Linked DNA regions of Homo sapiens: region 1 is linked to region 2. Evidence: fine-mapped expression QTL. A gene starts in region 2. The other region holds a variant in brackets. All regions are shown on one strand. Distances are from middle to middle. Region 1 overlaps RGS14 (regulator of G protein signaling 14). Region 2 holds the start of MXD3 (MAX dimerization protein 3).

Region 1 (5,362 bases), 54 kb before region 2:
GGCCATTTCCAGGATGGGTCTGTGGGGATGGGAGTCTGGACTCTGGGAATGATGAGGGGCAAACCCCAGCTCCAACAGTGGTTCTCTCCAGTTTTACCTCCCTAAGGTCACCACAATAGGATGATGGATGAAGGTGGAAACCTGGAAGGACATGAGGTGGGGGGTGGGTGGATGTCTGAGTGAGTGAAAGTTGGTGCTGAGGGTGCTTTGGAGTTGGGTTTAGAACTTGAATTGGGGTTGGAGCCATGACTGAGCAGAGACAGAAATGGAGTTGGGGTCAGGATCAGGAAGGAGGTTAGAGTTGGAGCCAGGTCACGTTCCCACCTGTTCATTGCCCACCAGGTAGACCTTGATGTCAGGTAGAGAGAGGCCTCGTTTCTCACAGATCCCTGCCAGCATGTCTCGGATGGTGAGGCCAGGTCTGGCCAGGGCCAAGGAGGCTGTGCCATCGGGCAGGTACACACAGCAGTACTTCCCTGGCCGGCTTTCACTTTCACCCTCCGTGCTCCCAAGGCTCTTCCGGTGGCTCTGATTCATGGCAGGAGTGGGGGAGATTATGTGTACACATGCAAGGGCATGCACACAGGTACACAGAGATAGGTAAGCTTGCTGGGGCTCAAGCATGCACACGCACTCCCAAGGCAGGCAAAGATACGTCCTCCTGCAGGAACACATGTATGCACACCCAGGCATATGGGCACCTAGAGACGGGTCCACCCGCTGATTCCCACACACGTGCTGTGTATACACACCTGGGTGCTGCACATGTGCACACATTTGCCAACTGAGGATGTGTACCCATGACATATATGGGGACCAATGTAGTGAGACAAGTAAGGAGGCTGAAGGGTTGGCTACGCAGAGCAAGCTGGGAGACGCAGTAAGGACAGCAACTTGGAATGAGGGCCACCACGTAAATGGGCCTGAGTAGTGACTCTAGCCCATAGAGCATCTTGTCTTCCCCAACAGTCGGCTCACCTCAGATTTGCTGCTGACGAAGGCTAGGAAGCCAAGGTCCAGGCTGGCGGAGGAGTTGAGGGAGCCCTGAGACTCTCGGCGCAAGGCGGCGTTTGCAGTCCCGCCCAGCTCTAGTGAAGAGGGAGCGATGAACGCGAACAGCCCCCCGCCCTCACCCATCCTCTGCGGAAGCCTGTTCCCCACTGGTGGGCCTTGTTTGGAGCCATCCTGCAGGGGCCCAGGTGTAAATCCCTGGGAGCGACACCACCGTTGGAGATTTCCAAACGTCTGAGGTCTAGCCCAAGACCCGAACCACCCAGGGGAGTGTGGTGGTCACTGGGACCTGGGTTTCAATTTTCACAGACTTACAGACTGTGGGCCACGTAGGAGGAAGGGGGCACTCCCCAAATTTAACCAAACTCCCGCCTTCCCCACATCTCTGTTGCTCGCTCCTGCCCTCACCCCGGCGGAAGGACTTGCGGAGAGGGCGGCCCCCAGGACCCTCAACGGGTGGCAGCTGCCCCAACTCCTCCACACCCAGCGGCAGCGACTTCCCGGGCTTCAGCTTCGGCTTCTGTGGGTACAGGGGAGGCGCTGGCACCGGGCTGGGCCCCAGCCCGCATGCAGACCGTGGGCACAGACTCGCAGATCTGCACCCGGAGGCGTCCCCTCTTGCACGCGGTCCGCAGGACCCCCTGCCTCGCCCAGTCCCTCGCCCAGTCCCACGCACCTTCCTCGTGGCGTCAGGGCTGCCGAGGCGCGAGGAGCCAGGTTCCCGCAGAGGGCGTCCCTCGGCTTCGGCTAGCAGGCACTCGCGGTACAGCGGGGACTTGACGAAGCGCGCATAGCTGTCGAACTTCATCAAGTTGAAGATCTGCGGGGCGACCCCGGAACAGGTGAGCCGGGGCTGGGGTGGGGGCGCTGGGCTGCCTGCACCCAGGCCGGGTCCTTGGGGCTGGCCCCGCCCCAAACCTAGGGCTGGATTTCCCAAGCCCCGCCCCGACCTCAGTTCCTATACCCACCCCCGGGGTCCAAGCCCGCCCCGAGCTCAGCTAGGCTCCGCCTCTAACTGTCCTTCCCCGTGCCTCTGATACCGCCCTCTGAGCTCCGCCCTGCCTGCCCCGGCATTTGGCTCTGTCTCCGCCTCCAAATTTGCCCCCTCCGCTTTGTAGTTCAGACTCCCCGCCAGGGTCCGACCCCGCCCCTGCTCCTTTTGTCTCCCTTTCAAGGCCAATCCCCCCAGGATCGCCCACCTGAAGCTGCTGTGCCCGAAACATGTCCGGCCGGGGCTCGGCCAGCACCTCCTCGCCAAGCCAGGCCTGACGGTCGATGTTCACTGGGCTCAGCGCCTGGCTGGACAGGAACTCCTGGTAGATGTTGCGGGCCTCCTGAGCTAGCTGAAGGAGGAGGGACAGGAGGAGTTGGTCAGGGAGCGTGGCCCAGTTCCCCTCTCCCCAGCCCTCGGCCCCAGCTCCCCCTTCCCCCACCTGCTGGGTATCGCTGGCCGGGATCTGCTGGAAGCGCTCGCAGGCCTTCCAGAAAGTCACGTTTTCCGCGCTGAACTCCTTCTTCAGGAACTCCTGGGAGGGGAAGGAGGGGGAGGCAGGCAGAGACTCAGAGACACAGAGACCAAACTGGGGGATGTGATCAAAAAGATTGGGACAGAGACAGGGCCAAGAGACCAAG[CCAGACAGACAGGGCCAGA/A]CAGACAGACGGAGCCAGACCGATCTGAAGACAGGGAGAGAAAATGAGAGGCAGAGACAAGGACAGGGAGAAGGAAGAAAAGTTCCCAGCTGGGAGAAGAGGAAGAGGGTGCTGCAGGAAGGCTAGATGAGGAAGCTGACAGAGGACCCCACTCTGGCCAGCCTGAAGCTCCATCCACGCCCTGCCCTCTCCCGTGTCCCCCCTTCCCTTTCCCTACCCCAGGCTTACAGTGAAGTAAGCCAGGCCCAGCGGGTCCTGCAACAGCCGCTCGAAGGACAGGGCCCAGCTGGCCACAGGCTGCTCCTCGGTTGGGAAGGGGCTGCTGGGACCACTGGGGAGGCTGTGGATGCTGAGAGAGCTGCCGCGGCCCTCGCCCTGGCCCTGGGGCCCCGTCGTGCTGCTCAGCTCTGCAGGGGGATGGACAAGTTGGGGTGAGCCTTGCTGCCTTCCCCAGCCCCTGGCACAACCCACCCTCCCCCATGCATCCACTCTGCAGCCATGTTCCCTGGAAAGATAGCAGGTGGCAGGGGTGTCCCCACCCATCTCCACCTCCCTCCTCCCTCCCACTCAGCCAGTTCTCCACACATTCTGTCACTTACCTCCATCTGACACAGCCAGAACCTATAAGAGACCCAACAGAGAAAGTCAGAAGAGCCCAGTGAGGATTCCCAGGGGACAGTTCTGGGCCCGACTCCCAGGAGCTGGAACTGCGTTCTCCTCCACCTGGGCATCCCCGGCCAGGTTCTACTTGGTCAGGGTTTTCCTCAGTCTGCCCCTGGCTCCCCTTCCATCCTGTGCCAACCACTAAGTACTGGGACTTATGGCAGGTACCTTCCAGCAGCCCCTGGTTCCCTCCTCCCCCAGCCCCTGCTGGGTGAGCCAGGTGTGCATAGCATGGTGGGTAGGAACAGACTTTAGTCTCTGCCACTTACTAGCTGTGTAACTTTGGGCAAGTTAGTTAACTTGTTTGCCTCCATCTGTAATCTGTAAATAGGAGATAATGCCTATTTACAAATGGAGGCAAACCATTTGCTTCCATCTTGATGTAAAGATCAAGTCAGTTTAATATATTCACAGCATTGGCTGGACACGGTGGCTCACGCCTGTAATCCCAGCACTTTGGGAGGCCGAGATGGGTGGATCACCTGAGGTCAGGAGTTCGAGACCAGCCTGGCCAACATGGTGAAACCCAGTCTCTACTAAAAATACAAAAAAAAAAAAAAATTAGCTGGATGTGGTTGTGGATGCCTGTAATCCCAGCTACTCGGGAGGCTGAGGCAGGAGAATCGCTTGAACCCAGGAGGCAGAGGTTGCAGTGAGCTGAGATTGTGGCATTGCCCTCCAGCCCGGGTGACAAGAGCAAAGCTCCGTCTCAATAAAAGAAAATCAAATAAAAATATATCCACAGCATCTAGAACATGGGCCAGCATGTGATATGGGCTGTATAAACATGTGCTGTCTTTGAGGAAGGAGAGGTGTCTCTGCAGCCAGTGATCTTACTATCGCACGTGTTGCCTATTGGGCCCAGGGTCCCATTACCACCGTGGGAGGGCACAAGATGCTGGTCTATAGTACAGAGCAGTGGTTCTCAAACTTCAGTGCAGAGTGGGAGGACCCCACCTCTGGAGATTCAGGTTCAGTAGGTCCAAGATGGGGCCTGAGGCTGTCCATTTCTACCAAGCTCCCAGGCGATGCTGATGCTGCTGGTTCAGGGACTACTCTGTGAGTAGTACTGCTGCAGTAACTAACTCCATCCTTGCCCCCAGTGCACAACTCTGGTTTCTCTGGGAATCCCAATCATTAGTGAAACAGAAAAACTCTCCTCTCAAAATGACTCTTGCGGTGGTTTCTCTTGTTTCTCTTTTTACCTTCCTAGCAGCTCCTCCAGCTTCCCCACTATCTCCCACTCATGCAATGTGGCCTCAACCCCTCTCTGGCTCTGTCCTGGGCACTTTGTCCCATCCACAGATCCACAGCTCCAGACACACATAACCAACTTCCTGGTAACGGCTCCAGCGCCTATCACCCCTGACTTGGGGTTAGAGGGCAGGACAGAGGCTCAGGGTGTGCGCGAGGAGGGCAGGGCCAGGCAGCCCAGCGGAGGGGGGCGAGTCCCCCCTCAAATGTCCCACAAGCCCTCAAGCTCCCAAATGGAAGTCCCAAATGGAAGCTCCCTCTGCCTCCACCAAAACACAGTACCAAACCAGCTTCCCTGCCCCCATCTTTCTTCCCATCACCCGGGCTTCCAACATCAGGGCTTGAGTCATCCCCAGTTCCTACTTCCCGCTTACCTCCTACACTTTCACCATGCCCTGTCACAGAAGTTCCTACCACCAGCCCCTTATTCCCATCCCAACTGGAAACAGGCCTGCAAACATCTCCACCCCGGAAAGCCCCCCAACCCCCACCCTCCTGAATGGAACCTTCCTCTCTGTTTCCTACTCCCACCCTGAGAGTATTCAGGTCACAGGGCGGCCATCTGTGGGCCAGATCCGGTCTGCAGATATGTGGGAAATTACTATTACCTTGGCCCTCTCAGGTTTTATTATGATGATTATTATTTTTATTTAAAGGTATTTTCCACATTTAAAAAGCAAGAGATTTTAAATTCCACTTGCTCCGTGAGACTGTAATGCTCCAGCTCCTTCCCAGCAGGACAACCTTGTCCGGGATTGAGCAGCCACCACCTTCCCCAAAAGGG
Region 2 (5,290 bases):
GATTGGCTCCCCTCTTCAAGGGGTCCTAACTGGGACAAAGGCCTGGGGCGGGGGGGTCTCCCTTCTCCCCTTCCACTCAGGGCACAGATGCAGACTCTGTCCTTGGAGCCCAGAGGACCATAGACCCGGGTAGAGTCTGCACTGCAAGTACAGGCAGCAGAACCCCAGTTACAGTGGGCTGGTGGAGGCAGGAGGTCACAGGGCGAAGCGCAGGACCCTGCGGACTCCAGGGCAGAGGATCTGGGCTGGTCACTGCTGGGGGGGCACTGCAGCTCCTCTGTCCAGTCCTGTGCCTAGAGGCCACTAGCTCTAGCATTTTCTCACAGGGGCCCAGGGGACATCCAAGGGCTTGGGGCAGGATCCCTGCTGGTCCAGGCTGGATCCCCCCATGCCCCGTCCCATCCTGTTCCTGGGGAGGTATTGTTCCTGTCTGGCCTGGCCGGTGGCCTTGACCCCAGCCCACATGCTGTCCCTGGCTCAAAACCGCTCTGCAGCTCCTAGGATGAAGTCCAAACTCCTTGACATGAGCCCTCCAGCCCCTCTGCAGCCCCACCCCGACTCCCACCACCTCCTGGCCATGTCTTCAGCTCACATATGCTTCCTTCTTTCCCTTTGCTGAAAATTCTCCTCCTTCAGAACCTCCCCACCCCTATCCCACCCAGACTGGAGGCCAGGCCACCTAGGGCCCAGACATCTGAGTAGGTTCGTGTCTGCACTGCATGGTGCTGACTTTAGTGAAATAAAATTGGAAATTCATTCACAACCCTTGCGGCTCCTTCCTTCAGAGATGGCTGATTGCAGGGGGGAGTTTGGGGGAACCCATCAGCATGTTCTGGGCCCTGCAGCCTCTCCAGTGTCAGCCTGCACCAGGCTATTTGCTCTCTGTAAGCCACACCGCCCCTGCCATGCTCCTTTCAGCCCCAGGGCCTTTGCATGTGCTGTTCCTTTGTCTAGAATTCTTTCATCTCTCCTATACTTAGATAACACCTCTTCATCCATTTCCCCAGTAAAGCCTTCTCTGGCCTCACCAATTAGGTCAAATGTTCCTTAGAATGTGTTGTGGGGCATGGTCTCTCCCTGTGAGGACCTGTCCAGCTGGACCTCCGCCTTCCTGCGACTGTATTGGTGTCTTTCCCTCTCAAGCCTATGAGCTCTGCAAGGGCAGGGACCCTGTATGATTTTGCCTATCGTATGTCCTCCAGCCCCCAGCACAGCGCCTGGTGTCCAGTGAGAGCTCAGCAAATACTTTGTGAGTTAAGGACAGGCGGCTGGGTAGATGGATCGTCTGCCTAGACAGGGCAGTTATTCCGCTGTGAGCAACTCTTAGAGAAACTTCATTTTTTTTCGGCGCCTGGCCGAAACTTCAAGATGTTTCCCGGCCAGGAACGGTGGCTCACACCTGTAATCCCAGCACTTTGGGAGGCTGAGGTGGGTGGATCACCTGAGGTCAGGAGTTCGAGACCAGCCTGGCCAACACGGTGAAACCCCGTCTCTACTAAAAATACAAAAATTAGCTGGGTGTGGTGGTGGGCGCTTGTAGTCTCAGCTACTTGGGAGGCTGAGGCAGGAGAATTGCTTGAACCCGGGAGGCGGAGGTTGCAGTGAGTCGAGACTGAGCCATTGCGCTTCAGCCTGGGCAACAGAGCAAGACTCAAAAAAAAAAAAAAGATTTTTCCCAAGGAACTGAGGCCTGACTGACATGTGCTTGTGTTTACCAGGACTGTCTCTTTACAGAGCATCTATCCCTCCCACCTTCCCTCCCCTCTCTATTTTGGGATTACTGGAGTCACAGACTCAGCCCGTGGCTGGCAGCAATGCTCCACCCTGCTACAGCTGCGTTCATCTTCCTGTCCCCAGATGTGGCCCCACCTGCTGGTGCTGAGGCTAGAAGTCATCACAGCCACTCCTTCGGCCGGCTAGGAGAGTCAGGTGCAAGAAGGGTTTATGGACTCTGAGTAAGGCAAGCAGGGGCTGCCTGGGAGGCAAACGCCGCGGTCTGGTTGCACTGGCCTTTGAGATGGGCGGCTCCTTCATGCCATGGGCACCGCAGAGGCATTGGCTCTGATCCTTCAACGCTGTCGCAGGGCTCCTGAGGCTTAGAGACGGAGGTCACCTCCTGAGTCATACACAGCTGAGACATCAGTGACAGGAGAGGACCCCAACTGCGTGGATACCAGAGCCCAAGGCCCCGGAAAAGGCCATTTCGCGTGCCTCCAGGGTATGGCCTGCCTGAGGAAGCTGTTACCCCACTGACGTTTTCGTAGCAACAACAGCTTCCTCACAGAAGAGGAGGGGGGCCGAGATATTATTCCCATTCGACACAGTAGGAAGCTGGGGCCCACGGGGGCCTTCGGGGGCAGATGGCAGGCAGGCTTGGGGACAGACCCCGGAGGGCAGGAGCCGGGTCCGCCGCCCCTCCGCCGGCGCCTGCGCATTGAGGCCCAGCTCCCCTCTCAACCCCGCCCCATCGCTTGGGTTTTCAAATTTGAAACCTGCTTCTTTTCCCGCCCGAACGTGTGGATCAGCGGCGGGAGAGGGCGGGGCAGAGCGCCAGCCAATAGGGCATCAGAGGCTCCCCGACCCCGCCCCGAGGATGACAACAGCGATCCTTGAGAAGCCATGTGCGAATGGGCGAGCGGCGGCCGGAGGCCCCGCCCCCGCGGCACCCACGTGCAGCGGCTGGGCCCGGCGCTTTCAGGGGACCACCAGGCCCCCAGAGCGCCGTGCTATGTTGGGGGCTAGTCACTAGCACGGGGCTGGAAGCTGAGATCAAAGACGCCAATGAGCCGGCGTGGGTGGATGAGTGAGGCGGGCAAGAAGCAGCACCGGTTAGCCTGAGGGTTCGCTCCAGGGCCAGGCCTGGAGCCAGCGCCCTTACCTGCCCCTGGAAAGTCTGAGACCACTCGGGGCGGGGCGGCTGCCGGAGGGTGGGCTGCGGCTCCGTGGCGGGTTCCAGAGGGGCGGAGCCAAGGGCTGGGCGTTCCCGCGGGCGGGGCGTCCCGGGGGCGGGGCGGGCCCCTGTGTTTGTTGCACCGTGTCAGTTACTTTGTAACAAAAGTGCTGCAGCCGCTTGCTCCGGCCGGCACCCTAGGCCGGCCCGCCGCCAGCTGTCGCCGACATGGAACCCTTGGCCAGCAACATCCAGGTCCTGCTGCAGGCGGCCGAGTTCCTGGAGCGCCGTGAGAGAGGTGAGGAAGGACCCTTGGCTGAATTCCGGGCGGCGACCTCGCTGACACGGGCCTGGACTGGACCTGGCTCCCAGCTTGAAGGATGCACCGCCCTAGGACAGTAATCCCGGGGCGCCTCGCCCTCAACTCGAGAGGAGTCCCGGGGCGGTAGAGCAGGGACGGGTGGGGGAAATGGTCCTGGCGCCAAAAGCCTTTCCTTGACCGTGCTGTGCCTGGGGCTGCCGCTGGGACCAGGTCCAGCCCCAGCCTGACGCGGGCGGGGACTCTCTCTGGCAGAGGCCGAGCATGGTTATGCGTCCCTGTGCCCGCATCGCAGTCCAGGCCCCATCCACAGGAGGAAGAAGCGACCCCCCCAGGCTCCTGGCGCGCAGGACAGCGGGCGGTGAGGAGGCCGGGGGCGGCGGGAGTGGGGGTGGGGGTGGGCGCCGCCCCTGGTCGGGCCCTCCTCTGCCCACTTGTTGCTTGCATCTTTTGGGCCAGGTGTCCCGCTCCAGGAAGCGTTCAGACCCCTCCTGCCATCTCCCCACTCTCCAAACACACTCACACCTTTCTATTCATTCAAGGACTATTTCTTGAGCACCTCTAGATGTGCCGGGAACTGCCAACAGCAGTTGGGGTCCCGCTTCCACTCGCACTCCCGCACCCCACACATCAGGCCACTCACCTCCCCCGCTGGCTTCCTCCTCTTCTCTCCTCTCCCCAGCCCTTTGCATATGCTGTTCCCTCCTATTTGAATGCCCCTCCCTCCAGTACCGGCTTGGGAAACATCTGTTTCCGCAGTTAGCTGTCACCTCTGGGAGGTCCTTTCTGGCCAGCTGGCAGGCGCCCTTGTTAGGGCCCTCATACCCACCTGGGCAGGCTTCTGTTAAGCATTTGGCTCCGTGTGTCTTTGACTCCCCTCGCCCTGCCAGGGGACTCTGGTGTCTGAGGCCAGCATGAGCTCTCCACAGGGGACTTGTTTGGGGCAGACATCTGTAGTGGCTCTTGAGCCACTGGGGGCCCTGGGATTGGGGCATGGGCAGTAGCTGATTCCCCTTCACCTCATCCTCTCTGGCATTGGCAGGTCAGTGCACAATGAACTGGAGAAGCGCAGGTGAGTCCCAGTCCTGCCCTGACAGCGCCAGCCCCCAGGGGCCACTGCCCTCTGGCCTTCCCTCCCCTGCCATTCCTGTGGCCGGCAAGGTGGGGCTGGCACTGCCCTCCAGACCTCTTCCCCACAGGAGGGCCCAGTTGAAGCGGTGCCTGGAGCGGCTGAAGCAGCAGATGCCCCTGGGGGCCGACTGTGCCCGGTACACCACGCTGAGCCTGCTGCGCCGTGCCAGGATGCACATCCAGGTGAGGCCCCCCACTGCGCCCGGACTGGCTTGCCCTGGTGTATGGAGGGCTGTGCTATGGAGGGGCTGGTGGGACTGGGGAACGAGACCTGAGGTCAGAGCTCAAGAACTGTGTGACTTAGGACAGCTCTCTGAGCTTTTACTTTCCAGATCCATTAAATGGGAAGAAAAGCAGACAATAACTCAGAGGGTTGTTGAGGCTTAAATGAGTTCACTCTATAAATGTTCACTGTTGCTGTTACAGCTGTTATCACTTAGATCACAGCTGTGAGACCTTGGGCAGGTTACTTAGCCTGTCTGGACTAACCTTCCCTCCTGTTTGAGGGGAGGGGATGGCTGTTGAATTCTGTGATGGGATGTATGTGGGGGTCCTTGGGACTGTAGAGGGTTGGTCCTTGCTCTCCCCCTCTCACCTTCAAGGCCTCCTGTTATGGGCAGTCTATCCTGGTGCCACCTGGGAGGCAGCTCCAGGGACAGGAGGGGAAAGGACTGAGAAGACGCCAGTCACTGGTCCTCCCAGGGCTCCTGCTGCTGCTGGGGCTGAGCTCAGTGCCCCCTGGTGGACAGGAGTGGATGTGCTGAATAAAGGCCCAGGTGGCCCTGGCCATGTCAGAAGTGGCCTTGGAAACCACAGGACTTTTCCTGCCCTCTAGAGGAATACATGAAGGCACAGCTAGGCTGAGGGCCAACAAGTTGCACAGCTGATGGGCGGCAGATTCAGGACCCATGCCCAGTTCCCTGGCTTGCGTTATCTCCTCTGACAAGTGT

The links. PIP is the estimated chance that this variant, and not a neighbour inherited with it, causes the effect.
Region 1: its variant is fine-mapped to the expression of MXD3 in atrial appendage (GTEx, PIP 0.99).

What each region holds. Positions count from the first base shown.
Region 1 is chr5:177,363,883-177,369,244 of GRCh38, reverse strand. It overlaps RGS14 (regulator of G protein signaling 14), which reads right to left. Exons shown (of 15, transcript NM_006480.5): 2 at 3,261-3,282; 3 at 2,890-3,068; 4 at 2,445-2,537; 5 at 2,211-2,354; 6 at 1,688-1,831; 7 at 1,420-1,531; 8 at 979-1,088; 9 at 325-528. Among named protein-coding and RNA genes, the nearest start is that of RGS14, 8.6 kb to the right of the region's middle. RefSeq lists enhancers at 1,013-1,651, 1,652-2,291, 4,265-4,314, 4,445-4,504, 4,615-4,744. The variant CCAGACAGACAGGGCCAGA/A (reference allele first, on the strand shown) is at 2,644.
Region 2 is chr5:177,309,659-177,314,948 of GRCh38, reverse strand. MXD3 (MAX dimerization protein 3) reads left to right here and starts at 3,051. Exons shown (of 6, transcript NM_031300.4): 1 at 3,051-3,188; 2 at 3,465-3,570; 3 at 4,252-4,281; 4 at 4,409-4,523. The coding sequence starts at 3,119. RefSeq lists enhancers at 1,917-1,976, 3,627-3,826, 4,084-4,950, 5,197-5,246 and silencers at 2,197-2,766, 2,897-3,076.